2 separate regions of the Homo sapiens genome follow, and region 2 is linked to region 1. A link means that fine-mapping ties the variant in region 1 to the plasma level of a protein whose gene starts in the linked region. Region 1 holds a variant in brackets. A gene starts in the other region. All regions are shown on their forward strands.

Region 1 (15,308 bases):
AGTTTCTAAAACAATCTACTTTCTCTCCCTTAATGCCTACTGATTTTCCAATTGCACAGCCTTATCAACCCCTTTGATTCCAAGGATAATGTGGGCTCTGTGGCAGGCTCCACCTAATGAATGGCCTTTCTTTGTGCTCCCTGAACCCATTTCTTTAAAGTCAGGTAAATCGTTCCTTTGCCCACATTAATATACATGGTAGTTTTCATTCAGATGCCTTAGAAGCCAGTCAGCTGGATAAAGTACATGGTTTTGATCTCAGGATACTATTAGTAATTATTTCTGTATATGGAATTGTTTTCAAAATCAAACATTGGTGATGCTTGCAGATGACTTCATGAATTACACGTTAAGTTTTATGTCATGCTGACTTAGAAGAACAAGGGGGAAAGAAAGGAGTAGGAACAGGTGAAGAAGACGGTTTTTAAAATAACAGGAAAACCACTAAGGAAAACACCATCATCACCTTCAATTTGCAAAGCAGGAGAGTGAAATTTGTTTCTCTCCTTCACACTGCTGGAAATACTCCAGTTCCTTTATAAATGATCAAATCTTAAATGGACTCAAATGTTTTTTTAAAAAAGCAAAATATAGAAAAGATGACTATTTTTACAACAGCAGTAGTACTCCCTTATCTGCAGGGGATACGTTCTAAGACCCCTAGTGGATGCCTGAAACTACAGATAATACCAAATTCTATATATTGATACTATGCTTTTTCAGTCTGATAACCGAAACAGCTACGAAGTGAGTAACGAGCAGATAAAGAAAATAAAATTTACCAAACTGAAAGACATGATATAGATTCAAAAGAACCACTGAGTACCCACTGCAGTAAACCAAAAGAAGACCACGACAGTGTATGTCACTGTAAAATTTCAGAACGCTAGGGGGAAAAATCTTTTGGGTGTAGGAAGGAAAAAAACCATCTATAGTAGTTCTCTGTTTTTTCCTATAATATACATACCTATGACAAAGTTAATTTATAAATTAGACACAGTAAGAGATTAACAACAACTAATAATAAAAGATTATGATTATATAACAATATGTCAGCATTACAGCTCTTGTGCTTTGGGACCATTATTAAATCAAATAAGCATGATTCGAACACGAGCACTATGAAACTCCAACACTGGATCTGATAACTCAGACTTCTACTAAGTGTCTTGGGGCAGGGAGGGCTTTCAGCGTGGATACGCTAGACAGAGGGGTGACCCACCTCCTGGGCAGAAAGAATCCAATGGTGCGAATCTCTGCTCAGAATGACATGCAATTTAAAACTTATGAATTCGGCAGGGTGCGGTGGCTCACGCCCAACACTTTGGGAGGCCGGGGTAGGTGGATCACATGAGGCCAGGAGTTCGAGACCTGCCTGGGCAACATGGCAAAACCCCATCTCTACCAAAAATGCAAAAATTAGCCCATGTACCCCAGAAATATATAAAATATTTTGTATCAGTAAAAAAAGAAGCAACTATATACAATCAAAAACGGAATGAATTTGCTGATAAAGTAACATGAATGTATTCAGTCAGAGGGTAGAATTAGGTTTCTGGATTATTGTAAAGGAAATTTCTGTATTGGGAGAGGCTTAGACTCAATGAATTAATGAAAGCCATAGTGATTGAAAAGTAGTACTATACAGAAGCATTACAGCAATAACGGTGGCTCTTTTGTGTGATATGGTCAGGTGAAGAACTAGTTGGTTATTAGGATGCCAAATAGTCTCCATATATATACATGCTCTCTCTTTCTTTGTGTGAATTTGTGGCCTTCTATTTATAACTCATCCATAATTCAGTTTGCAAATGATCTTTGTAAAAGTAATAATTTATTTCTATGACATTTACACTTTACTAATGTACACAATGAACAAATCCTCAAAACGACTTCATTGCTGAAGAATTCTAATGAGAATGATTACTTAATAATACTAATATTATAAATAAAGACTAACATTACCATACATATTATATTGATAATTAATGTCTATCAGTGAGATATCATCAACTCCATTACAACTATGCTCATAAGACATCAAACCTGTTAAACCAC[C/A]AGCCAGACTGATCTTCTTCTGCGCAGTTCCCTTCATAGTTGTCATGATCTCTGTCCCACGTGCTGAATTTCATTCTTTGGTGACTAGCCCACCACTGCACCTCAGGATGAAAATTCCCCGCAAGGGAATCTCCAGCTGTTCCAGAATATTCCCCAATATTCAACTCGTAGAAATTCTAAAGAAAAAGGGCATTTCTGCTGTCAGTGGAGTTCCTCTATGACCATTTTAAAATTAAGTTTATTTCATAAACAAAAGAACAGGTTCTATTGTATATTTTTATTTCCACTGACTCCAGGGTTATATTGCACATTTTAAGCATTTATTCACGGTTTTACTTCTTAGAAAATTGTAGTACCTTTTCATCTCCAACTTTGAAATTCTTATATTGTGCATAACGGCTATTTTTTTCAAAATCTGCAAGGTCGATTTTTAAAGTGTAGTCTTCTAAAAAAGAAACAAGCAATTATAATTTTTAAAAATGTGTGACATGACACGGACTACTGCGGTTTAAAAATAATTCACAGCTCTATTTTAATTTTACCATTTCCCTTGGCCAAGAATCAGTTTTCAAAGATTAAACAGTGACTCCTTTGTATATATAACATGAACATTTTATCGTGTAATTTATTTGAAAAAAAATGATGGATACAATATTAAATTTAAAAAATGTCTACTAGATCTCTTAGAGGTAAAACCTAGTGCAATTCACTGAATAATGAACAACAGAAAAAATAAGTGATTACTTAAAGCAATCTAACAATGAAAGGGTCGACGTTTTACCTTTAATAGTTTGACCTCTTTTTCTTGATTTCAGTAAGAATGTTGATCTTGAATATAAATGGTGGCTATTAATGACATTGTGTAATCTCTAGTAGCTGAGCCACTAGGTTTGTAAAATGTAGTTGCCATTGCCTGCATATGCCTGAACTTGGTTATTTTCCTGATAGCATAAAAGATCAGCCAGGAAACCCTTTAAGAATAATTTGAGGAAGAAATATGAATCCTAATTGTTATCCGAAAACCTTCGTTTGATACTGGCTCATAAGATCAAGAGACTCTTAGCATCAAAGTATGTAGAGTGGATGTCATTGGAAGAGAATTTCAGAGGCAATAAGGAAACATTCTGGAGAAATGCTGTACCACCAACATTCTCAATGGCAGAGATGATGATAATTACTGGAAAATATACTAACATCAATGACTCTGAGTAAAAAGGTATTTCTGAAGAACTGATATCTACATGTGAAAGCATTTTAAGAATGCAATGGGGCCGGGGCGGTGGCTCACGCCTGTAATCCCAGCACTTTGGGAGGCCGAGGCGGGCGGATCACGAGGTCAGGAGATAGAGACCATCCTGGCTAACACTGTGAAACCCCGTCTCTACTAAAAAATACAAAAAATTAGCCGGGCATGGTGGCGGGCACCTGTAGTCCCAGCTACTTGGGAGGCTGAGGCAGGAGAATGGCGTGAACCCAGAAGGCAGAGCTTGCAGTGAGCCGAGATTGCTCCACTGCACTCCAGCCTGGGCGACAGAGCGAGACTCCGTCGCAAAAAACAACAAAAAAACAAAAAAAAGAATACAATGTATTGGGTACATATTATCTTTTATATATGCTAAAGAATGATATATGATGACAAAAAATCTCTAAACATTAAAGATATACTTTAATGACTGTAAAAATTCTAGGCGATATAAGAGCATTATGTTTTTAAAATGATTAAAATAATTGCTACCTTCAAGTAATCTTTTTTTTCCCATTGTTTGGAAATAACAAAGACTATTCCTTTTTCAGAAACAGAACTCTTGTCAGGGGCACCAAATGTTATAAATCAAATTATTAGATCACATGTGTTCTATCCTCCTACTTTGATAAATAAGATATAACAATGACCTGTAAGGTCGGGTTAGAATTTAGAGCCTCACTTTCCTTGGAGTTTCAAGCCAGACCATGGAGGCACTGGGAAAGAGAGTCCCTGAATAGTCCTATCACCTAGGCCCCATCTCTGGTTGGCCTCTTCTCTCTTTCCATCCCCATCTCCATCACTTATAGCAAGGGGCTTTGGATCCACTTGTGGACATCCCAGGCTGCATATCCAAGTTCTATTCACACCCAAGTTGGGTGGATTACAAGGTCAGGAGATCGAGACCATCCTGGCCAACATGGTGAAACCCTGTCTCTATTAAAAATACAAAAATTAGCTGGGCATGGTGGCACGTGCCTGTAATCCCAGCTACTCAGGAGGCTGAGGCAGGAGAATTGCTTGAATCCGGGAGGCAGAGGTTGCAGTGAGCCGAGATCGCGCCACTGCACTCCAGCCTGGCTACAGAGTGAGACTCTGTCTCAAAAAAAAAAAGCCATTTTTTAGCCTCCCCTCAAGCTTAAGGGTGCACACACCAGGACGAGAACATCCTGAAGGAGTCCTATAAACAAACTCAAGGCTGTTGGGGCAGGGAATGCTGGATTCCTCAAGACTGGAGTCCCTTTAAGAGGTGATGCGGGCCTCTCTTGGGCTTGTTGATTTAGCACCACAATTTCCTTGCCCCAGGGAGCTCTCTCAAGGTAGTAAAGGTCACAGGAGAAAAGACTGTAGAGTGTATAAGAGCAGCAAGGCAGGCTAAGTCAACTGTCTTTAAAAATATTCTATTACAGACGAGATGCGGTGGTTCATACCTGTAATTCAAGCACTTTGGGAGGCTAAGGCACGCAGATGACTTGAAGCCAGGAGTTTGAGACCATCCTGGTCAGCATGGTGAGACCACCGTCTCTACTAAAAATACAAAAATTAGCTGGGTGTGGTGGTGTGCGCCTATAATCCCAGCTACTCAGGAGGCTGAGGCATGAGAATTGCTTGAGCCAAGAGTCAGCGGTTTTAGTGAGCCAAGGCTGTGCCACTGCACTCCAGCTTGGGCAACAGGCAAAAATCTGTCTCAAAAAAAAAAACAAAAAAAAAAAACTTCTATTATAACAGAGACATAAAGACTCAATTTTTTGGCTAACATTGAAATGTCTCTTTGTTCAATAAGTAAACAAATTATATTTACCATTTCTAAATCAATTTTATTGCCACTACTTCTAGTTGAGATTTATGTAGTGGGGATAAAGCTATTCTCAGAGGTAATTCATTAATTCATTAGCCGTAATGCTCTCATAATTAAAGAATGCAGAGACAAAAACACTGGCTATTGTCTGGATTGATGGGATACGTGGGTGGGGGCCCAGGAACTGAAAAACACGTTTTTTCTCCAACGAGATTAGCCAGCCTGAGTACCAAGTTGATATATGAAAAGGAACAGGTTTGTTGGCAAAGTTCCTCTGGGAAAATATGTACATCATAATAACTTAAAAAATAATACGTTTGAATTTCATATATTTAGAAAGAGCCAAGGGTTACTGCTCTGGGGTTTTCATAGTTTCAATAAGAAACCAGATAAATATCAATGTGCAAATGAAACAGAAGTTGGTATGGCAAATTTTATATATCTGGCATAAAACACTTAAAACTAGAATAATAGATATGTTGAAGGAAAGGAAGCGTTATGTAAATTTAGAGAGCACTGATCATAAGAAGGACATACAAAGAAAGTATAAGGTTTCTAGGATTACTCATCCTGTCTAATGTTTATCATTCTAGTGTCTCAAAGAACTTTATAACCATAAGCCTACTACTATAAATATAGAAACACCAATAGCTTTCCAGAACTTGGATGGAACAAAGGAACTTTTGTTTTATCTTAATTACTTTATTATTATTATTATTTGAGACAGAGTCTTGCTCTGTCACCCAGGCTGGAGTGGATTGGCGCAATCTTGGCTCACTGCAACCTCCGCCTCTTGGGTTCAAGCAATTCTCCTGCCTCAGCCTCCCAAGTGGCTGGGATTACAGTGCTGTGCCACCATGCCTGGCTAATTTTTGTATTTTTAGTAGAGATGGGGTTTCACCATGTTGGCCAGGCTGGTCTCGAAATCCTGGCCCCAAGGGGTCCACCCACCTCAGCATCCCAAAGTGCTGGGATTACAGGCATGAGCCACCATGCCCAGCTGTTTATTTTTAATGCAATTGCAGTGTAACTTAGCATGCTTTTTTGGGCATTACAGTTGCCTTTTATGAAGGATTCAGGATCAGACTTGAGTGGGACTGATGATAATCTCAGACTACAACAGAGGTAGGGAAGACAATGGATTGGAGCAAAAGAACATGGGAGATAGAAGCTGGGAAAAGTCGTTATCAAAACAATGATATTTTAGACAAATATTAAACTCTAAAGATAAGAATTTAAAAGTATATAGGGAGACATCCAGATGTCTGCTATTTACTTTGAAATATATATACAGAAAAGATGGATTGATGGACGGATTGAGTAATGGGCAAACGGATAGATACGTAACAAAAACAAGCAAAGTAAAATGTTAATGTAGGATACAGGTGGTAGGTTGAAACTTCTTTCAAATTGGTTGCAGCTTTGAAAAAATTTCAGCATTAAAGATGAGATGTATGTGGAAACATGGACATTTCATATATTATAGTGTTTTATTGGAAAAATAGCACCAATTGCCCAATTGTTCACCTCTCTCTCATAATATGTCTTCATAGCTCCTCCTATTGTTTACTTCCTTTTAAAAAAAAGTCTGAGCTGCTCCTGTGATTTGCTTTCACCAATAGAAGAAAAATGACTCCATGCCAATTCTGGGCCTAGATCTCAAGAGACTTATATACATCCACTCTTTTTTGTGGAACCCTGCCTGTGCTACAAAAACAAGTCCAGGCTAGCTAGCTGGAAGATGAGAGACCCTATGGAGCCAGGTTGAATCCTTCCATCCCAGAGCAGCAACTTCAGTGAGGAAGTTGATGGCAGACTCATAAGCAAGCCCAGCCATGATCAGCAGAGCCCAGCCCTGATCAGCAAAATCACCCAGCCAACCTGCAGATTTGTGAGAAGTAATAAATGGTTGTTGATTTTAAGCCACTAAGCTTTGGAAGAGGATTGTTACACGTTATTATTGTGACATTAGGTAACTGATACAGCATATATAATCTCCAGGAACTCAAGGCATCAAAAAGGAATAATTATGACATTATATATCCTTTTCAGAAGTAGAATATATATATATTCTATATATATCTATAGATACATATAGCGACTTATATTCTATATATCTATATATAGCTACATATATACTATGTATAGAATGTATATATATCTATAAATATATTTAGATATTTCTCATAAATATATATGTGAAAACAATTCCCCGCAACCCAATTCTAGCTTTTTTTTCTGTTTCTAATTTTAGGCAGCCACATTTTACATTTGGGATTATTGCCCAAAAGTTATCACTGCCATCTGCAAATCATAGCAATTATTGAATTAGTTCCATTGCCTATAATTTGGTTAAAAAAAAATTTTAGTGTTGTTTTTATTATATTTCAAATAAATCTGACATCATTCAAACCTTACCTTGAGTGGTCAAGAAGTGAAGATTTTTATTGCCCAGCCAATATTCACCATGTTTTTGGACAAAATTTCCAAAGCCATTTTCATAGTCTTTCCATCCTCTAAAAAAGGTAAAGTGGAAGCCGATTAGAGCAAACTCCATTTGTGGTACCAAAGCGACCACCACCCACCCCCTGCTACCACCACCTCCAATATTTTCTTGATTAGTTAATTCATTTTCAGTATTCTTCTTTAGAGAGATTGAAATTCTGTCTAATTAATAGGCTTCAGGATATGATCAAAATATTTGACTTATAAATCTCACATTTGCTGCTACATATAAAGTCTTACATCATAATTAGCACACCTGTTAAAGTTTTCACTGCCATCAGATCGTCTCTGAATTACAGTCCATCCTCCTCCATCGGACATGTCACAATAAACAGAAAATTCTGCTGGGCTCTGGAGAGGTTTGATTTTGTAAAATCCACTGAGCTTATACCCATCATTGAAAATCTCTGAACAATCTGTTTTTAAAACAAGGTAATGTAACATTCATTATGTGTCTTTTTCTCCCCCCGCCTTAGGGAGCCTCTGAATGAGACTACTCAGTATCACTGGAGACAGATAACACATGGTATAGAAATCAGCGTTTTAAAATTGCATCTTGTACATCTTCCAGTGGATATTAGGAAAGTTTTATTTCCTTTGCTAAAATTTGCCACCTGAATCCTTGATATAATCATCGAGGAAAAAAGGGGAGTGAAATAAGAATCTAGTTTTTTGTTTCTTTCTTCTTTTTTCTTTTACATTTTTTTTAAGAAATGGGGGCGTGTCACTATATTGCCCAGGCTGGTCTCGAACTCCTGGCTTCAAACAATCCTATCCTCCCACCACAGACTCCCAAAGGGCTGGGATTACAGGTGTGAGCTTAGTTTCTAATTTCTGAGTTTTGTAGAAAACAATCTTAAAAAAAACAAGTTATGAGTAGTCTGTTAATAACAGTATATTTAGGTGGAACTTACAGTTTTATCAGACGGAATAGTAAAATTTATCTCACCCATGAAGCTAAAATGAAAGCAGAAATGTTAACACCAAAGTTACTACAGGTTATCCTGACTTAGAGCATGATAAATCATTCTGGACATCTGAAAATGAACCCAAAATAGTAATCTTGTAAAAATCTTTATTATTATACTTTAAGTTCTAGGGTACATGTGCACAACATGCAGGTTTGTTACATATGTATATGTGTGCCATGTTGGTGTGCTGCACCCATAATCTTGTCAAAATCTTATAATCTCTTAGCCTTATTAGATTTTTTACTAACCCACTGAAGTTTCTAAAAGTCCATACATTCTTAGATGTTTTTGCTAAAAACTGCAAGCTTCTGCTATTCTTTTCATCCCTTAATTCTTTTTTGCTGTGGTATTTCTTTGAACACTGAAGCAAATGTAGCTACCCCTTTGTCACCAAAAAGTGATATCTCTTTCTTTCTTTCTTTCTTTCTTTCTTTCTTTCTTTCTTTCTTTCTTTCTTTCTCTTTCTTTCTTTCTTTCTTTCTTTCTTTCTTTCTTTCTTTCTTTCTTTCTTTCTTTCTTTCTTTCTTTCTTTCTTTCTTTTCCTTTGAGACAGAGTCTTGCTCTTTCGCCCAGGCTGGAGTGCAATGGTGCTATTTCGGCTCACTACAACCTCCGCCTCCCGGGTTCAAGCGATTCTCCTGCCTCAGCCTCCTGAGTAGCTGGGATCACAGCCACGCACCTACACACCTGGCTAATTTTTTTGTATTTTTAGTACAGACTGGATTTTGCCATGTTGGCCAGACTGGTCTCAAACTCCTGAGGTCAGGCCATCCGCCCGCCTCGGCCTCCAAAGTGAAAGGATGACAGGTGTGAGCCACCACACCCTGCCAAATGGTGATGTCTGTTCCTTAAGCCACTTGAGGGTGATGTAAATTAATACCCATTGGGTCTCACCTAGGTTGATCTGTACAGACTTAGAGAACGTGGCAAATGGGGACCTCTCTATTGTTCAGATGCATAGAAAGCTAGGTTTTAGGATGATTGAAGTAGTGGTCACTATAAACAATCTCAAGAAGAGCCGTCTACAAACATTTGAATAAAAATACTATAACATCATCAACTTTCACTTTTACCCTTATCGCTTTGTTAATTTCCTTAACAAAAAATTTTTTTCTTATTGGATAATTCCATTCTTGTAGCATATTTTAAAGATGTTTAAAGATTTAAAAACAAATGTTCATTGTTTTGATACTAGATTGCCAAATTTACAACTCTCTTGTTTTGTTACAGATAAAATATATTGCACATTAAGTAGGTGAATAGGCCATAGACATCAGAAGAGAAAAGAAAAGAAAGAACCTTAGTCATTTTATAAAGCCTTCACATGGTTGGGACCAACCATATACTCCTGCTTTGGTGAGATGTTTACCTTTGTAATGATTTAGGCTTTATTCATATATTTATTTTCAAGATTCAGAAGCACATGCGTTCATATACATGCTAAATTATAAAAAGGATCCTGTTTTGGCAATTAAACAAGAAGCAAAACAATGAGAAAATGATTATCTAAAATTAGTTCAATGTTGTTATAAAGTTTACATCTTGTAGTCAAGTATATAGTACAACACTTTTATTAAAGTAAGCAGATTTTAGCCCTATTTGGAAAGAAGCTTTTTGCTTACATTAAATTTCCTACCAAAGAGCTGAATACTAAAGACTCACAAGGATCAAACTATTTTCCAGGCAAATATGGAAGTGATTAGCTATAACATTTGCCTCTGGAAAACTTAGTGAATATAGAGGTTTCAGCCAAAATTTTCTACTTGTTATTATTTTATGCTAACTGCGAGTTTGTTATTTCTTTGGTCTTGTTTTTGAAATTTTCCTTCTCCCCAGAAGAAAATGCCAAACACAACTTAAGAAAAGCTTTTAACTGAAATAAACAGTAACACAACAACAAAACCCCCAACAAATAAATAAACATTAAAAAAGCAAAAAAGCACCAGTAGTTCAATTTGCTTATAGCTAACAAGTTAAGAAGCCTGCTTTGGGAAATGAGACTTAAATCGTAACAGCAGAAAGTATGAAAAATGTAGAATTTAAAATATGAACTTGATATTTAAAACGATGATTTTCAAAATGTTCTGACCCACTCAACTCCCTGGAGAATAGGTAGAAGAAAGGCAAGGTTAAAGAGCTTTGTGTTCATGGGAGTTTTTTTTTTAAAAAAGAAAAAGAATTTTGAATATTTACATAATACTAGACAGAGGCCAAGGCATCCTGCCTTCTGTTTTGACAAACACTGTATTAAACTGGGTTATGTGTGTCCTTTCTCTGATCATGCAGAAAGTAAGCCATGTTGGAAGGCTGAATGTTTAAGCTCATAAAGTGACATGACAGCCTGCCAAATGGGCTTTTTCCTCTTGTCTCAGGATGGTGGCTGAGGCACAAAGCTGAGAACCAAAGGCACAAAGTACCCCACATTCTAAACACAAAAAGAGGTAAGCAACAGAGGTCAGCTGCCACTCCCCAGAGCATGTTGGGATATGCGAGAACTGGCCCTGCTACCGCCATCTTCACCCCCAGGCAACATAAGGAAAAAAAAAAAAGGATAAAGGAAGGTGGGTACATAGTAGGTGTATGTATTTGTTGGGGTACATGTGATATTTTGATAAAGGCATGCAATGCATAATAATCACATCATGGAAAATGAGGTGTCCATCCCTTCAAGCATTTATCCTTTGTGTTACAAACAATCCAATTTTGCTCTCTTTGTTATTTTTAAATGTGCAATTAAATTAATATTGAGAGAATGCGATACTCTTGTAGGGTAGAGTGAGTAGGCTTTCTTCCTTGAAAACAAGGCTATAATAATGTCCATAGATAGCTGGCATTCACTGAGTACTTCTTTTGCTCTACGATGTTAAATATATTAACTCATTTTATTTTGTTTATTTATTTATTTGAGACGGGTCTCACTCTGTTACCCAGGCAGGTTGTAGTGCAGTGGCACAGTCAGCTCACTGCAGCCCCAAACTTCTGCAATCCTCCTGCCTCAGCCTCCTGAGTAGCTGGGCCTGCATGCATGCACCACCAAGCCTGGCAATTTTTTTTTTATAGTGTTAGAGTCTCACTATGTTGCCCAGGCTGTTCTTGAAATCCTGGCCTCAAGTGTTCCTCCCACCTCGGCCTCTCAAAGTGCAGGGATTACAGGCATGATTCATGGCACCTGGCCAAAATATTTTCACTCATTTGAATATATTTTAATCCTTACAACAAATACACAGCATTCTTATTCTCATTCTTCAGATGGGGAATATGGGACACACAGAGGTTATGTAATGTCCCCAAAGGCCACAGCTAGCAAGATGGGCAGCTGGACTTTGAAATCAAACTCCAGAGTCAACACCTTAGGCCACTTTGTAACCTGCCTCAAGACACTCACATGCAGACTGGGGGCTCCTGAAGAAGGGGAGATGCTGGAGCCAGTGGTGTTGTCAAGTGAACGGCGGTGGTGACGCCAGATTTTTGTTCTTGCCACCAGTTAATGTGAATTTGACACAGTAACCTTTTAATTCATAATCCGCTAGCACCCAAATTCTTTAAAAAAAGATACAGCTTAATAGTATGCTGTAGAAAATCATGTGCCTAGTGCATTGTTTGCACAAATTGCTAGGTTGTATGTAATTGGGTGTTTTCTACCATCAGATAAATTAGAATTCAGAAAATAACTAATTTAGTAATAATAAAGTAACTTGTAAATAAGAAGAAAAGATTTATATTTCTACAGATTATATGTATGAATATTTAATTGTTTTCAATTTAAGGACACCAAAAACATAAACTTTGAGGTGAACAAGTTCTTATATATTTTATACCATATTATATATATATAAAACACTATACTTTATTGGAATTTTTATGTTATATATTTTATTTATTGAGTATCTGTTCTTAGTAGCCTCTCCAGTACTATCTCCCTATATGCTAAAATATAAAGAACAATTGAACTGTGTTTATATTTTATTTCCCCTTTTTCTTCTTCATGCTTGTAATTAATATATGAAAAATATTGTTTTAATCTACTGAATTCTGATTTTTTTGGCTTTTATATCAAAAAACAGTCATCTAGAATTCCTATCATCTGTCTTATTATTATAACAGTATTATATTTATAATAATTATAATGTTTTTTCTGAAGCATCTCTATATGACTCTTCTAACTCCTGCTTGTACAGTTAATCCTGCTCTGACCTTGGCATCGTAATTTCCAAGTAACTGATTTCTTGCCTTATTCCTTGGTGACCCCTTACTTCCCAAAGTCTGCTCCCCAGCAGTGTCAACACAAGGACTGGATCTTCAGCTCTTGATATGATTTGGATGTGTGTCCCCACCAAATCTCATGTTGAGTTGTAGTTCCCAGTGTGGGAGGGAAGGCCTAGTGGGAGGCGATTGGCTCATGGGGGTGGAGTTGTCATGAATGTTTTAGCACCATCTCTCTTGGTACTCTACAGTGAGTGGTGAGTTCTCATGAGATCTGGTTTTTGAAACAGTGTCGCACCTCCTCCCTCTCTTTCTCCTGTTCCCACCATGTGAGATGTGCCTGCTTCTGCTTTGCCGTCTGCCATGATTGTAAGTTCCCTGAGGCCTCCCCAGAAGCAGATGCTGCTATGCTTCCTTTACAGCCTGCAGAACCATGAGCCAATTAAACCTCTTTTCTTTATAAACGACCCAGCCTCATTCATTTCGTTATAGCGGTATGAGAACGGACTAATACAGCACTTAAGCCTCAGTCTTCCCATGACTGGTTGTAGAGGCCTGGGAACAAACATCTGATTAGCTGCCCCCTGCCATGATTGACCCTTGAGTCTGTGCCAATAACCTGCTCAGAATGTGTTCAAATAGAAACCCCAAGTCTTGGGCTTGGTTTGAAATTTGGAGTAATGATGATCCACTGGCATCTACGAGTTCCTCGCCCTTGAGATCAGCTTTGTATGTTCTTTTGGGATCACTTATCTGTATGCTCATCCCTTAAACGATAGTCCGTTTGCTTCCCAAGCCCATTTTTACCCGAACTGTCCCTGGTTCCTCTTGGCTCCAGAGGCACTGGCCATCTTCAGGCTATAGCCATCCCCACTACTGCAGACCACTGGCTCTGGCCTCTTTCTGATCTCTAAGGGCCAGAGGGAGGGCAGTTGGATCAAGATGCTGGCCATAAGAGAAGCAGGAGCCCAGGGCGAGGAGTCTGAGCAGAGGGAGATAAGGATCTTGGTAGAAAAAAAGGGAGCATTTTAAGAGTCTCATGCGCTACAGTGTGAGCCAGCCAGGTGCCCTGAAGCATTTTATGGAAGCATAGACTCTCACAACTCCTATATCCTACACTTGTATGATTAGAAGCAGAAAATAAACATGTTTCTATTCCCATAAGATTGGCAACTCTTTGACCTCTACAGTCTTTCAATTCTAGTCAAATAGGTGTCCGAATTTATATTTGCTTATCTTGCTATTCCTCTCCCTATGAACTACCTTCCTTTCATTCCTGAATATGAGGATCTACTATGTTTCAGGCACTCTAATAGCCAACAGGGAGATAAAAGTACATTAAATATCATTCTAGACCTCACAGAGTGCCCAGTTAATTGACCTCAATAGACTCATAAACAGAAATTACAATGTAGCATGGTAGTGCTAGAATAGACATATGGACAAAGTGCTTTCGCTAGCATTCTTTTTGTTTCTGACAATCGTCGTTTACTCTAAAAGATACCTTTTACTTCTGGAGGAATTCAAGTGAACAGTTTTCCATAGAGAATAATGATTTGTGCAGCAATGTGTGTAATGTGTTGCCAGTTTAAAATCATTTAGTTTCTGGGGAGAAATACCTCATTGAAAGGAACATTATGAAATCAGAAAATATACATATAAAAAACTACTCTTTTATTTTCCTTAGTAATTCTGGTTCTTTTTCCTTTTTCTGCTCCTTTATTTTTTACCTTATTTGCCACCCTAATGCACATTAGGATTTCAGAAGGGAAAACTGCATACATGCAACAAGGAAAGATACACAAACACAAAGCTCAAATGCAAAAATTCCCAATTGTAATCTGCCATGTGTACACGGATTTTTTTTTTTTTTTTGAGACAGAGTCTTATTGTGTTGCCCAGGCTGGAGTGCAGTGGCACGATCTTGGCTCACTGCAACCTGCGACTCCTGGGTTCAAGTGATTCTCCTGCCTCAGCCTCCCAGGTAGCTGGGACTACAGGCACCTGCCACCACGCCCAGCTAATTTTTGTATTTTTAGTAGAGATGGGGTTTCACCATATTGGCCAGGCTGGTCTAGATCTCCTGACCTTGTAATCCGCCCACCTAGGCCTCCCAACGTGCTGGGATTACAGGCGTGAGCCACCGCACTTGGCTGTGTCCATCAGTATTTAAACAATCTATTGTCCTGATTTCTTATTAAATGATATAAATTCTCAGATATTTAGCATTCACATTAAATGCCCTGGCAGAGATAGAAAAAAGTAAAGTGTCGGCTGGGCACGGTGGCTCACGCCTGTAATCCCAGCACTTTGGGAGGCCGAGGCAGGCGAATCACAAGGTCAGGTGATCGAGACCATCCTGGCTAACATGGTGAAACCCTGCCTCTACTAAAAATACAAAAAAAGTAGCCGGGCCTGGTGGTGGGCACCTGTAGTCCCAGCTACTCGGGAGACTGAGGCAGGAGAATGGTGTGAACCTGGTAGACGGAGCTTGCAGTGAGCCAAAATTGCACCACTGCACTCCTGCCTG
Region 2 (15,308 bases), not on the chromosome of region 1:
TATTGGAAGCCCTTTTTGCTTCTCTCTGGCCCCTGCTTTCAATGGACACTTTAATGTTAACAGCTGTGGACCATTAGAAGCCTGTCTCTCCCTGGAGCCTAACTGCCAAATTATCATTTTTAGAGAGGCAATGTGATAACTGTTGAACCATCACCTGACATTCCTGGTGGGTGGGGGAGAGCCCTCTCCTACCCCACTCATGCCTGTCTAACTACCTGTAACATCTCTACAAAAAATAAAAAAATTAGCTGGGCATGGTGGTGTGTGCCTGTGGTCCCAGCTACACGGGAGGCTGAGCCAGGAGGATTGCTTGAACCTAGAGGTTGAGGCTACAGTGAGCTATAATTGCACCACTGCACTCCAGCCTGGGTGACAGAGTGAGACTTTGTCAAAAAAAAAAAAAAAAAAAGGAAAGGAAAGAAAGAGGGTTGGGCGCGGTGGCTCATGCCTGTAATCCTAGCACTTTGGGAGGCCGAGGCGGGTGGATCACCTGAGGTCAGAAGTTCGAGACCAGCCTGGCCAGCATGGCGAAACCCCGTCTCTACTAAAAATACAAAAATTAGCCAGGCATGGTGGCGCACGGCTGTAATCGCAGCTACTCGGGAGAATTGCTTGAACCCAGGAGGTGGATGTTGCAGTGAGCCGAAATCACGCCACTGCATACCAGCCTGCGCGATGGAAGCAAGACTCCATCTCAAAAAAAAGAAGAAAAGAAAATTTAAATTCAGCTCCTCAGTTGCACTACCACATTTCAAGTGCTCAGTAGTGGCTAGTGGCTATTGGACTGGGCAGAAAAAGCACATTTTCGTCACTGCAGAAGCTCTGTTGGACAGTGCTGCTCTGGAATGTCAGCTGCAGGTGGACAGGGATTTCTGTTTTTGTTGTTCCCAGCTGTATTCCCAGTGCCTGGAACAGTGCCTGGCACACAGTAGGTGCTCAGTATTTGCCTGTTGAATGACTATTGAAATTGTCAGAGATGATGGGTGGCTGTGATCAATAATGTTAATTACTGTCCTAAGCCCCAGTGCTGGGTGGAGGTCATTGATGTGTGTAGGGGGAGGGGCGGTGGGAATGCATGTAGGTGACCATCAGGCACAGGTGAAAGGGTGAGTATGAGTTTTGGGGCGAGAAGGCTCTGCAGCAGAATGAAGTGCAAGAGAGAGACAGGAAAGTCTAGACCACTCTGGTGTGTATGAGAAGCAGCCTATGTTGAGGACACCAAGAGTAAACCTTTTAAAAACTGTTCAGTCCCCTCCAGGCATCCACCGTCTGCACAGACTTACCCCGGCCCCCACGTAGAGACCACCCTGCCTGGCAGGAGCCAGAGGTGATGGTGGGAGCAGAGTCTGGGGAGGAGCCCCGTAGGGAGAAAGCCCCAGGCGGGGCGGCGAGGGCGGAAGGCGGGCGGTGGAGCCTGGCGGTGCCGTGTCCCTCCCTGCAGGAGCTCAAGGAGTCTTGCATCCGGAACCAGGACTGCGAGACTGGCTGCTGCCAACGTGCTCCAGACAATTGCGAGTCGCACTGCGCGGAGAAGGGGTCCGAGGGCAGTCTGTGTCAAACGCAGGTGGGTATCGCCGCCCGGGGGGAGCCAGAGGGGATCCAGGGGAAGTGGGAGCCAGGGCGGGCCCAGATTCCTGGGGAGGAAAGAAGGGTAGGTGGGCGGAAATGCCCTGGAGCCTGGAATTCCCCCGTGGGACTGCACCTCCAAGCCTTCTGGGGGAGCCTGTGGACGGAACCAATATGGTAGCCCACCCTAGGGTTTTGGAATCCTGGATTGGGGCGGGAAGGCGATGTTTCACTTTCTAATGTGGGTTCACATTCTCCAGGAGTCTTCTCAGCAAATTCCGAAAGTAGTACAGTAAATGGGCACAGCTAGGTCCAGCCTCTGCCCCAGAGCCCCGTCTTCATCCAGCTCAGGAGTTCTGCTGTGGCCCCGGGTGTTCCTGGTGGAGGATGGGCAGAGGCAGCCTCTGAGCTGGGTGTGTAGGGGAGGGAGTTGATTTGCCCATGGAAGGATTTAAAGACAAGACATAGAGGTCCTGCGATGGTGTGTCCATGGACTTAGGACAGGCAGATGGGTCAGTGACAGGCAGGGTTACAAGGTCTGGAGCTGGGAGGACACTGAACAATCCAGGAGCCAGCCTGGAGAAGGCAGCCAGAGGTGCCACTCTGAGCAGCTGGCAAGCTATCATTTATCCCTGGATCCTGGCTGTGGGCAAGCACATGGGCCCTGGAGCTGGGCTGGGCTGGGCTTAGGGGCTCAGGGAAGAGCTGCCGCCAAGGTCGAGGTCAAAGTCCTGTCTTTCCCAGGTGTTCTTTGGCCAATATAGAGCGTGTCCCTGCCTGCGGAACCTGACTTGTATATATTCAAAGAATGAGAAATGGCTTAGCATCGCCTATGGCCGTTGTCAGAAAATTGGAAGGCAGAAGTTGGCTAAGAAAATGTTCTTCTAGTGCTCCCTCCTTCTTGCTGCCTCCTCCTCCTCCACCTGCTCTCCTCCCTACCCAGAGCTCTGTGTTCACCCTGTTCCCCAGAGCCTCCACCATGAGTGGAGGGAAGTGGGGAGTGATTGAAATAAAGAGCTTTTTCAATGTTTGCTGCCCACAGAGTTGGGGCCTGGGTGGGCTGGGCTGGGGTGGGCATGGTACAGGTTTCTGGGGGGTGGGGAGGTGATATGAGGGAGGAAGCAGGAAGGGACACTGTTGGACTTGGGGTCTTTCCCCAGTTGGGGCATGAATGAAAGTCCCCCAGAAGAGACCAAAGCTCCCTTCCCACCCCAACCCCTTTCTGCCTTCAGCCCACTCTGTAATCTACCCCCCGGAAGCCCAGTTTACACCTGATATTCCAGTTCCACGACCTTAAATTTCAGAAATGTGAAAGAAGGTACACAAAATATCCATGTGTATAAAGAATTGAGGATGTTTATTGAGCACTTACTAGATGTTAGGGGCCGCTCTAGCTGCCTTATGCACATGATCTCATTTAATCCTGCAACAAACCTGTGGGGTCTCTCCTGTTATCACCTCTGTTTTACAGGTAGGGAAACGGGTTGAGCAACTTGTTCAAGGTCACACAGTTGGAAAGTGCTGAATCTGAATCTTCTGGGAGGCAAGAGAAAAGAGGGACAAGAAAAGAAGGAAGGAAGGAAGGAAGGAGAGCCTAGGAAAGAGTGAGAAAGAAAGACTGGAGCAGCGACTGTGGTGTGGGGTTGGAGAGAGAATGAGTCAAGTGGAGTTTTAGGAAGTCTCAGTGTGTGGTGAGGCTTTTGGAGTTAGATGCTAGCTCGCTTGTCTGTGAGTAGTGCCTGTTATATTCAGGTTACATTTTGGAGTTAATTATTTCAGATTTTGGACCTAAATTTCCACATTCAGCCACCAGAACTGAGCCAAACATGCCCTCCAGGATGTTGGGCTTAGGATGCAAGGGCTGGGGAGTTTGGAGGTAAACTATGGTTGTACTTAGAACGCCCCCTTGTAAGTCATAGCAAAACGATGTGAACCATACCTTGGTAGAATATGCTGTCCTGTACTAAATGTATCAGACAGATAACCAGACTTCCATTGTGTTATGTGAGCTCTCCCCATTCAGAGAAAACCTATGAAATGACCGTGGAAGGAGAGGTGGCAGGCTGGAAACCCAATGATACCCAATGTCTAAGAAGTTCCCAAGGATACCCAATGTCAAGAAGTTAGAAGGGGAAGGGGAGAATACAGAGCCCAGAAATAAACCCAAGCCTGTACAGCCAATTAAGTTTCAACAAGGGCACCAAGAAGACACCTTGGGGAAAGGATAGTCTTTTCAATAAATGGTGTTGGGAAAACTGAATATTCACATGCCAAAGAATGGAATTGGACCCTTATAGCACACACAAAAATAAACTCAAAATGGATTAAAGACCTAAATATAAGACCCAAAACTGTAAAACTCCTAGAAGAAAATATAGGGGAACTATTACACGACATTGGTCTTGACAATGATTTTTTGGATAAGACACCAACAGCACAGGCAACAATAGCAAAAATAAACAAATGGGACTACATGCTGAAAAGCTCTGGACCGAGCACGGTGGCTCATGCCTGTAATCCCAGCACTGTGGGAGGCCGAGTTGGGTGGATCATCTGAGGTCAGGAGTTCGAGACCAGCCTGGCCATCATGGTGAAACCCCATCTGTACTAAAAATACAAAAATTAGCTGGGTGTGGTGGTGCATGCCTGCAGTCCCAGCTACTCAGGGGGCTGAGGTGGGAGAATCACTTGAACCTGGGAGGTGGAGGTTGCAGTGAGCCGAGATCATACCACTGCACTCCAGCCTGGGCAAGAGAGCAAGACCCTGTCTCAAAAAAAAAAATTAATTTGAGGAAATTTTATGGTTTGGTTTTGTTTTGTTGGAGACAGGGTCTCACTCTGTCACCCAGGCTAGAGTGCAGTGGCTCCATCTCAGCTCACTGCAGCCTCATCCTTCTGGGCTCAAGTGATTTTCCCATCTCAGCCTCCTGAGTAACTGGGACCACAGGTGTGCGCTACCACACCTAACTAATTTTTAAGATTTTTGTAGAGATGGGGAGGGGGAGATCTCACCATGTTGCCCAGGCTGGTCTCAAACTCCTGGCCTCAAGCAATCCTGCCTCAGCCTCTCAAAATGCTGGGATTACAGGCATGAGCCACTGTGCCCGGCTGAAATTTCACTTTTTTCCAATATTGGATATTTTCATCCAGGAATATAAAATGCTTTAAAACAAAGTTGTTAATTTTTTTAATAAACGTTTTTAGCCTAATAAGGAAAAAAAAGAAACAAAAAAGAAAGGGAGTTGGGGAAGATACGTTGCTGACATGACTAAACTGGTTCCAAGTGTTGGGGGAGGAAAACTTTTCCTCTATCCTCTTAGGTTCAGTACTTGAAGGCCTGAGAATTAAACCGATAAAAGAGAAATGACCGATTTTTATTCAGAATGTAGGGAAGTTCATGGAAGAGTGTGACTCTAGAAGGAAGTTAGAATTTGCGGGTTATGTACCATCTCAATAGAAGAAGGGGAGGAGGAGAAAGGACACTTATAGAAAAGTAATTTTTAGGAAAGATGAATGGGCCCTTAGGAGAAAAGATGGGAGCTATTATAGTTTCGTGACCTGACTGTTTAGGTGTGGTGCCAACTATTCTCCCCTCCAGCAATAAGTCAATTTTCCCTGGTTTTGAGAAACTCCTGGGAGGGGGATTTATGACAATGGAGCTCTTTTGCAGGGCTCTGCATTTAGGCAGACAAAGGAGTTCAGAAAAGAGCCTATTCTCATCCAGCCTGGGCAGCATTGCGAAACCCTGTGTCTGAAAACAAACAACAACAGCAACATAGCCGGTGGTGGCACGCACGTGTAGTCCTAGCTACTTAGGAGGCTGAGGCAGGAGGATCACTTGAGCACCAGGAGGTTGAGGCTGCAGTGAGCCATGGTCGCACCACTGCATTCCAGCCTGGGTGACAGAGCAAGACTCTGTCTCAAAAAAAAAAAAAAGAAAGAAAGAAAAGAAAAAGGCCCATTTTCAAATGCCTTCTGCTCAGAATAATTTTTATGCTTCAGTGGCATTCTCTAGACCCCTTCACAAGCCATGGGGATTCCGCTGCCCTATGGGAAAAGTGGTCATTGGTAGAGGCTGCCGTTGTCAGAATCCAGAGAGATTTGTAGGGAATAAAGTACAGATGCTCCTTGACTTACGATGGGGCTACATCCTGATAAACACATTGTTTAAGTTGAAAATATCGTAAGTTGAAAATACGTTTAATAGGCCGGGCACGGGGGCTCACGCCTGTAATCCTAGCACTTTGGGAGGCTGAGGCAGGCGGATCACAAGGTCAGGAGTTCGAGACCAGCCTGACCAACATGGTGAAACCCCGTCTCTACTAAAAATACAAAAATTAGCTGGGCGTGGAGGGCACGCCTGTAATCCCAGCTACTCGGGAGGCTGAGGCAGGAGAATCACTTGAACCCGGGAGGCGGAGGTTGCAGCGAGCCGAGATCGTGCCATTGCATTCCGGCCTGGGTGACAGAGTTAGACTCTGTCTCCAAAAAAAAAAAAAGAAAAAGAAAAAGAAAATACATTTAATGGGCAGGTGTGGTGGCTTGTGCCTGTAATCCCAGCACTTTAGGAGGTTGAGGTGGGCGGATTGCTTGAGCCTAGGAGTTTAAGACCAGTGTGGGCATCATGGTGAAACCCCATCTCCACTAAAAATATAAAAATTAACTCCGGGCATGGAGGCTCACACCTATAATCCTAGCACTTTCGGAGGCCTAGGTGGGCAGATTGCCTGAGCTCAGGAGTTCGCAACCAGCCTGGGCAACATGGTGAAACCCCATCTCTACTAAAAATACAAATAAATAAATAAATAAATAAATTAGCTGGACGTGGTGGCATGTGCCTGTAGTCCCAGCTACTCGGGAGGCTGATTCAGGAGAATTGCTTGAACCTGGGAGGCAGAGGCTGCAGTGAGCCGAGATCGCACTATTGCACTCCACTCTGGGCAACAGAGACAGACTCCATCTTCCCCCCGCCACAAAAATAAATAAATAAATAAATAAATAAATTAGCCAGGCATGGTGGCACACGCCTATAGTTCTAGCACTTGGGGAACTGAGGTGGGAGGATCACTTGAGCCCAGGATGTCAAGGCTGTAGTGAGCCATGATCATGCCACTGCATTCCAGCCTGGGTCACAGAGTGAGACCCTGTCTCAAAAAAAAAAAAAAGTATTTAATACACCTAACCTACTGAATATCATAGCTTAGCTTAGCCTACCTTAAATGTGCTCAATCAGAATGCTTACATTAGCTGGGAAAAATAACACAAAGCCTATTTTAGAATAAAGTGTCGAATATATCTCATGTAATTTATTGATGTTCTACTGAATGCATATTGCTTTTGCACCATCATAAAGTTGAAAAATTGTCAGTCAAACCATTGTAAGTGGGGACCATCTGGTTCCTTGAGCTGTGGTTAGACTGTGCCTCTGCTGTGTAGGCGTGTGATGCTGAAAAGCAGCAGAAATTGAGAGTCTACAGGAGCACTGGCCGTTGGAAATAAAATGGAAGCTACATAATGGTTGGGGTCTTGGTCACTTGCTTCTGCAGAGCCCAAAGCCCAACTCCCTACTCACTTTTGAAGACCAGGGACATTTTCCTTATGCCCCCCACAGTCCAAAACACGGTGCCAGGCACACTGTGGTCATTCAGTGAACACATGAAGGGGACATGAATGCAGATCTCCAGGACCGAATGTGGCACCAAGAAGCGTGACTCAGCCCTGCTCAGGGCCTGAGACCCCTCCTGGGTTAAGGTATTGAAAGCTCCTCTTGTTGAGCACATAATTCATATGTGGCAGACACCATTACCTGGTTTCCTAATAGCCATTGCCCCCTTCCCTGCCAACTGAAACCCAATATTGTTTGGGCATCAATGAACCTGGCCCCAGGAGAAGGATCTTATTCCCTTTGCTTTCCCAGCGTCCCTTGCAGCTAGAAGTAGTCAGATAACCTAGTTCTAGCCACTGAGATATGAAGAGAAGTCGGCCTTGAGGATTTGAGGAAAGATAAGAAGAGGGTATGGTCCAGGTGCCATGGTTCATGCCTGTAATCCCAGCACTTTGGGAGGCCGAGGCAGGTGGATCACCTGAGGTAAGGAATTCAAGATCAGCCTGGCCAACATGGTGAAACCCTGTCTCTACTAAAAATGCAAAAAATCAGCCAGGCGTGGTGGCAGGCGCCTGTAGTCCCAGCTACTTGGGAGGCTGAAGCAGGAGAATCGCATGAACCCAGGAGGCAGAAGTTGCAGGGAGCCGAGATCGTGCCACTGCACTCTGGCTTGGGCAACAAGAGCAAAACTCTGTCTCAAAAAAAAAAAAAAAAAGGGTATGCAAGAAGAAACTCTCTGCTCCTTCTCCCGCCTTCCCAGCTGCCAGCTACTCCATGCTTCCTGCCTTCGAATACGGTGAGAACGTGAAGTCATGAGCTGCTGCTAAGGCATGTGGCAACCTTGAAGAGAAGGTCAAGAGCTACCAGCCACCAAAAGAATGCCAGCACTTCCTGTGTCTTTGCTTTGGATTCATGAGAAATATACGTTCCTATTTGCTTCAGCCATAATTACTTGGGTTTTTCTGCTACTCACAGTTGAATGCAATCCTAACTCATAAGCCTGTGGTTACAGGAGGATTCATTGATCACAGAACTGCAAGATCCTGGGGCTGGGACGACATCGAAGTTTCATTCAGTTCACTGTCCCTCACTCTCTGTGGGAATCTCCTCTCTAGCATCTCCACCGAGGGGTCAGTGAGCTTCCACCTGCGTACCTGGATGATGGGCACCTCAGTACTGCCTAAGGTAACTCATGTTTGATGGCTCCAGGGGATATACAATTTTTATATTAAGGCAAAATTAAATTCCTTGCAGTTTCCACCCATTTTTCTTAATGCGAATAATTGGGAAAGAAAAAGGAATCATAAGGCCGGGCACGGTGGCTCATACCTGTAATCCCAGCACTTTGGGAGGCTGAGGTGGTGGATCACCTGGGGTCAGGAGTTTGAGACCAGCCTGGCCAACACGATGAAACCCCGTCTCTACTAAAAACACAAAAATTAGCCGGGCGTGGTGGTAGGCGCCTGTAATCCCAGCTACTAGGGGAGGCTGGGGCAGGAGAATCGCTTGAACCTGGGAGGTGGAGGTTGCAGTGAGCCAAGAGATCACTCCGCTGCACTCCAGTCTGGGCAACAGAGAGAGACTCTGTTTCAGAAAAAAAAAAAAAAAGGAATCATAGAAGCAGGGCAGTGGAGTTAGATGGTAGAGTGCCAACATTTTCTGATTATGTGACATTGGGCAAGCTCCTCTCTGAAACTTGGTCTCTATCTATAAAGTGGAGATGAGAAATTCTCCCTCCTGGGATCCTTGTGAGCATTTGCTGGCAGAGAGTAAGCTCATAGCAATTGAGAGTGGTCTGACCCCTTAACACATGAGTTGTGTCAGCTAGCTGTCATATTTGAGAATTGTGTCCAGAAAAGAGGTGAGAGCCCAGGATTCTGATGCCTCTGATGCAGGGTGACGAACATGGGCCATTAAAACTCCTTACCCACAAGTGTGTGTGTGTGTGTGTGTGTGTGTGTGTGTGTATGTGCGCGCGCATGCACATGTGCCCGCTTGTCTCTTTGAGAACCGGAGGGACAAGGAGGGCATCCCAGGTAGGTGTGACTTCTCCCCAGAAATGGAGGGTTTCCTAGGCTGGCTGGGTCTCCTTCACAGCTTTGTCTTCAGTCTCCAATCTGTTTGGCCACAACTTCTTCAGCCCCAGACCCATCCCTTGTTCTTCTGACCTGCCTGAAGCCTGCCCTGGTGGACCAAAGGCCTGATGCAACTTCAGAGAAGATGCTGAGTCAGAAAGAATATGCAGGAGACTGGGAAAGGTTTGCAGGAGGCCTTTAATTGTGAAGAGCGCAATCAGAAAACAGATATGCTGGTCAAGGAGGTGGCCAGCCCGGGAGATGCGCTGGAGCAGGGGAGAGATGCCCCTGCGCCTAGTGGCCTACAGCATTCTGGGCTAGGTGTGGGAGTGGGTGGGCAGTCTCACTGCTTGGAGCGTCCAGCGTCATGGCAGATGCCAAAGTTGGTGTTGGTGATGGAGCCCACGATGGTCTTGTCTCCCTCACAGGTCAGGCCACGCTCACAGGGACACTTGTAGTAAATCCCATAGAGCGTCTGCAGAGACACAGCCAATGGAGTCAAGGCTATGGGGAGATACTTTGGACATCACTTGTCCCCTGCCTGACCTAGAGAACCAGTAGGCCAGCCTGTGTTTTCGGGGAGTGCCTCTCCCACCTGCCTCCCCAGGGGTGCCGTGGGCCCTGGAGACCCCAGCTCTGACCTCTGCTCTGGCTCATTTGCTCTTACTAGCTTGATCTCTCTGGGGAGCCTCTATTTACCCAGCCATGAAATGGGGATAACAAATCCCCACCCCCACCCATCTCACTGGTCACTCGGGAGGGTCAAGAGAGATGATGGGATGGGAAAGTGCTTTGACACCTGTCGACCTCCCTCTCGTCTCCTCAACATTCAGTGTCCAGGCTGACCCCCCTCCCTGATCCCACTCACAAGTGTTCAGGGCCCTACTCCCCATTCTCCCCCACCCACGCCAAGTCCTCAGGCACCCACCTTGACAGAGCACTCGCTGTTCTCGCTGGCCATGGATGTGCAGCGGGCCAGGCCCAGCGCACTTGAATGCTGGCAGCAATTGCTCTTACACTGGGCACTATTCATGCAGAGCTCACCGTTCTCCTGCCAGGAGCAGCCAGTCAGCCCAGGCCCCACTCCCTCAGGTCCCTTCTCCATTCAGACCTGTACCCACCACACACTACCACTAACAGTGTCTCCCCTGGTAGGGATGTGTGTGAAGGAGTCCATCCCCTGGGTCTGGTGGCCTCTGTGCCCCCCACCCACGTGAGAAGTGGGCATGCGGTGACAGAGAAGCAGACTTGCACAGAGGGTCAGGACCCCTGGGTTCTAGTACCGGCTGTGCTACCAACCTCCTGTGTGACTCTGGGCAAGTCACTGCCTCCCAAGCCTCAGTGTTCCCATTTGGAATGTGCACACAAGGCCCCTAGACAAGTTCTCCAAACCACTCTGGGTCCCACACCTCTTTAAGGAGGCGGTGAAGATTGCATCTCCCTGCAAGACTCCTTCCTCCCCCAACAGATCTGATCTATAATCTCCAAGGGTCCTGGACCTCCAAGTCCAGCCATGGCCCCAAGTTAAGAGAGTTCAGAACCTTTCAACCGCATGGACGTTCTGGAAGGGCTTTCCCAGCCAAGACCCATGGTGGAGAGGTGGTGTGGGGCAGTGGTGGGGCCCCAGCTGAACCACTTTCCAGCTATGTGACCTCAGGCAGGTTGCTCACCCTCTCTCTGTCTGAAGACAGGGCTGACTCTGAAAACACCTCCCTCAGTGGTTATTATGAGAACAGAATGAGTAAACATCTCCGAGGCATCTCCATAAGTCAGAAGCTGGAATGATTGGCGCAAAGCATTTTCTCAGGATGGAAGCCCAGGGCTCTGGATTTTTACAAAGCTCCCTCGTAGGGCCAGGTGAGGTGGCTCATGCCTGTAATCCCAGCACTTTGGGAGGCCGAGGTGGGCGGATCACGAGGTCAGGAGTTTGAGACTAGCCTGGGCAACATGGTGAAACCCTATTTCTACTAAAAATACAAAAAATAGCTGAGCGTTATGGCAGGCACCTGTAATCCCAGCTTCTTGGGAGGCTGAGGCAGGAGAATCATTTGAACCCGGGAAGCAGAGATTGCAGTGAGCCGAGATTGTGCCACTACACTCCAGCCTGGTGACAGAGCAAGACTCCGTTTCAAAAAGAAAAAAAAGAAAAAAAAGGTCCCTCATAGCCAGGTTGAGCTGCTGCTCTGAGCATGCTCCAGTTGGAGCTGGAGAGGGGCTGATCAGCCTTTCCTGTGGCCTCTGGGAAGAGGCATAGGACAGGACATGGAAGTAAACAGAGGGATGCAAGATGCCACTCCTCCCAGCCCCTGCCAGTCCAGGTGGAGACATCAGAGGTCAAGGTCCAAGCTTAGGAAGTCTTCATCTGGGGACTCAGGAGGCGCCTCCCCTGAAGACCCTCTTACCAGGTTGATAATGATCCCCCGGGGGCCAGGAGCTGCATAGGCCACAGAGAGGGCGACAAGCAGGAGGATCAGGATCTTCTCCATGGTGAGTGGGACAGCTGGTGTGGGTGGCGGGAGACAGAGCCAGCTGTGGTGATGGGGCTATAAAAGGGGCCCTGACCTCACGAGATCCACCTGCATCCCACAGGGCTGGCCGTGGGCAGAGGCACAGCTGTGGCCAATCTGCTGTGGGGCGGTTCCTGATAAGGAAACTGGGTGAGTACCTGGTGGCCTTTTTCGTGTGTGTGTGTGTGTGTGTGTGTGTGTGTGTGTGTGTGTTGGTGATAATTGTGTTGCATCGTGGTTAAGAGTATGGACTGTGTACAAGTTATTAGTGAGGCAAACTTACTATCTGTTCCAACTATTCTGCCTTTCATCTTATCTGTCAACTAAGGATAATTTAAAGAGTTGTGAGGGTTGAATTAATACACATTTATGTGTTACATATATATAAACATTATTATATACAATTATAAGAATATATTTATATTGTATATTCCCATATGCCACATAAGCAGTGGGTAAGGGTGGCTGCCCTTGTGTCTTGAGCTCCTGGGCAGTGCCTGGACGAATCCAAGGCAAGAGAGGCACCTATGGTGTGAGTGCCTGCTTACATTCTGTGTACTTGGGGCCTCTCTGCCTCACTATAGTCAGGCCTTGCCTTTGGCCCACCCAAGCCCAGGTGTCTAGCAGTGTCAGACTCCAGGGACGAGGATCCTAGCCTCCCACCCCTCAACCTTCCTTCAGTCTCCTCGGGGGATTCCAGGCCATGCCCAGATCCCTGGGGCTGACAGTTCTGCAACCCCCAGCAGGCCAGGGTGTGTGTGCTTTCACTTTGGCACCCTCCCCCTGCCCTCACACCAGGGGCTGCCTGCAGGCCTGACTCAAGGGCCCTTAGGAGGCCCTTCCTAAATGCCTCTCTCCCCTTTCCTTTCTACCTCACTTACTATCTGCAATTCCAGCATCAGATACTCACCCCTTTAGTTAAGGTTTCCACTCACGCTGCCCCCTACCCAAGGCCACGTGCGCGCGTGAGCAGTCGCTAGTCCTGGCTGAGAATGAAGAGGTCTCATGAGCCTCAGATGGAGCAGGGGCCTCAGGAAGCTGGGAAGGGCACAGCTGCCTGAGTTTGCTCAGGCATGGGAACAGAGCAGCTTTTCCTGAAGGACTAGTCATGGCAGCCAGAGGCCCCTGCCCTTCCCCTCTCCATCCCAGGAGGTAGAAGACAGCTCCACTGAGAGGCCCAGGCCTCAAGCACAGCTTTTAATTTAATTTAATTTAATTTTTTGAGACAAGGTCTCACTCTGTCACCTAGGCCGAAGTGCAGTTGTGCCATCTTGGCTCACTGCAGCCTCCACCTCCTGAGATCAAGCAATCTTCCCCCTAAGCCTCCCAGGTCTAAAACTCGTGGGCTCAAGCAATCTTCCCACCTCGGCCTCCTAAAGTGTTGGGATTACAGGTGTGAGCCACTGTGCCCAGCCTCAAGCACAGCTTTGATCCAGACCAAGCTGGCTTCAAAATTCAGCATTTACTGGAGCTACGTGGCCTCAGACACATTATTGAAAGTGAAGCTCCCTGAACCTCACTTTCCTTATTTATCTTAGGGGGATAACGCCTCCTACTTCCTGAGGTCATGATTAAGACAATGCACGTGGAACACCTTCGGAAGTGCCTGGCACATGGTGGGTGCCCAGCCATGTAATATGACCCCCTTCCTCTCACCTTTACATCCCTGGGGTGTGGAATGTAGAGAAATAGCTGGAGGAACAACCAGGAGACTCTCAAAATGAGAAAAACCAATTTGGTTCCAGCGATGCAGAAATACCATTGATGAAAGAACACTATCCCCCCTCTCTTTTATAGAACTCAATGTTTGAAAGCACTTTTTCCTATGAGTTCACTCTGATCCTTCCTTCTCTTTTCTCTACCTGCTCCCCACCCCCAGGACCTCTGTGAGGTGAGCCACAGAGAAGGGAATCACTATTCCCTTCTCACAAGTCAAGATGGAGACTGGCAAAGGAATCAGAGGAGTGATTTCTCTCCATGAAGGGAGCTGTGAAAACCATCAGCCCTGTCCCTAGTTGGTCTCAGCCAAGCTTGCAAAGAAAAAAGGCTGGAGTTTTTTCCATTACAAATGAAGTGTAGCAAAGAGAACTTTGACACTGTATGTGCTTCTAAAAGGAAAGCAAAAATTAAGTACCTGTCAATGAAAAGAGTCAAACTCTGTACAATATTTGAATAGATTTATTCTGAGCCAAATATGAGCAACCATGGCCTGTGACACAGCCCTCAGGATGTAACCACTGAAGGGGTTCACCTTGCCCACTACCTAGATAGAGCCGATTCATCAAGACAGGGGAATTGCAGTGGAGAAAGAGTATTTCATGCAGAGCCGGCTGTGCAGGTGCAGGAGACTAGAGTTTTAGAGTTGTTGTTGCTGTTGAGACAGAGTTTCGCTCTTGTTGCCCAGGTTGGAGTGCAATGGCATGATCTTGGCTCACTGCAACCTCCGCCTCCTGGGTTCAAGTGATTCTCCTGCCTCGGCCTCTCGAGTAGCTGGGATTACAGGCATGTGCCACCATGCTCGGCTAATTTTGTATTTTTAGTAGATATGGGGTTTCACCATGTTGGTCAGGCTGGTCTTGAACTCCTGACCTCAAGTGATCCACCTGCCTCAGTCTCCCAAAGTGCTGGGATTACAGGCATGAGCTACCATGCCCAGCAGGGAGCAGAGTTTTTGAAGATAACTTGGTGGGTGGGGGGAAGCCAGTGAGCCAGGGGTGATGATTGGTCAGAGATGAAATCATAGGGACTCAGAGCTGTCTTCGTGCACCCAGTCAATTACTGGGTGAGGGCCACAAGATCAGATGAGCCAGTTTATTGATCTGGGTGGGGCCAGCTGATCCATCAAGTGCAGGGTCAGCAAAATATCTCAAGCACTGATCTTAGGAGTAGTTTAGGGAGGATCAGGATCTTGTAGCCTCCAGCTGCGTGACTCCTAAACCATAATTTCTAATCTTGTGGCTAATGTTAGTCCTACAAAGGCAATCTAGTCCCCAGGCAAGAATGAAGTCAGCTTTGGGAAAGGGCTGTTACTGTCTTTGTTTAAACTATAAACTAAGTTTCTCCCAAAGTTAGTTCAGCTTACGCCTAGGAATGAACAAGGACAGCTTGGAGGTTAGAAACAAGATGGAGTCACTTAAGTTAGATCTCTTTCACTGTCTCAGTCATAATTTTGCAAAGGTGGTTTCAGAATGAGGAGAAAACAAAGAAAATGACCCCCTTTTGAGCACTCCGTAGCTTTTATGGCACCTCTACCTGACAAAGTTTATGTAAAATGGAAATAACGTGGTCTTTGTGCACATTTACATTAAGGAAAAAGAGCCCTAAGGTTGACCTGCAAACTATAGAATTCCTAAGTCATCTTTTTCTCTATTTTTCTTTTCTGCCTGCTCTAAATCTTCCTTCCTTCCTTCCTTCCCTCCTTCCTTCCTTCCTTCCTCCCTCCCTTCCTTTCGATGGAGTCTCACTCTGTTGCCCAGCCTGGAGTGCAATGGCACAATCTCATCTCACTGCAACTTCTGCCTCCCGGGTTCAAGTCATTCTCCTGCCTCAGCCTCC

Direction of the effects. Alleles are on the strand shown, and positions count from the first base shown. The strength of an association depends on the size of the effect and on how common the allele is.
With allele A in place of C in region 1, the plasma level of the protein whose gene starts at base 11,767 in region 2 is higher (weak association).

What was found. PIP is the posterior inclusion probability: the model's chance that the variant is causal. The UK Biobank Pharma Proteomics Project read protein levels with antibody pairs (Olink). The fine-mapping took linkage between variants from a reference panel, not from the people measured, so its PIPs are less certain.
Region 2: CLPS starts here. The variant in region 1 is fine-mapped to the plasma level of the CLPS protein (UK Biobank, PIP above 0.99).

Annotation. Positions count from the first base shown.
Region 1 is chr8:17,866,502-17,881,809 of GRCh38, forward strand. It overlaps FGL1 (fibrinogen like 1), which reads right to left. Exons shown (of 8, transcript NM_004467.4): 4 at 7,861-8,020; 5 at 7,518-7,615; 6 at 2,415-2,503; 7 at 2,047-2,234. Among named protein-coding and RNA genes, the nearest start is that of FGL1, 21 kb to the right of the region's middle. The variant C/A (reference allele first, on the strand shown) is at 2,059.
Region 2 is chr6:35,785,557-35,800,864 of GRCh38, forward strand. CLPS (colipase) reads right to left here and starts at 11,767. Exons shown (of 3, transcript NM_001832.4): 1 at 11,649-11,767; 2 at 10,175-10,297; 3 at 9,426-9,721. The coding sequence starts at 11,732. The coding sequence ends at 9,590. CLPSL1 (colipase like 1) reads left to right here. Exons shown (of 3, transcript NM_001010886.5): 2 at 1,442-1,564; 3 at 2,311-2,594. The coding sequence ends at 2,454.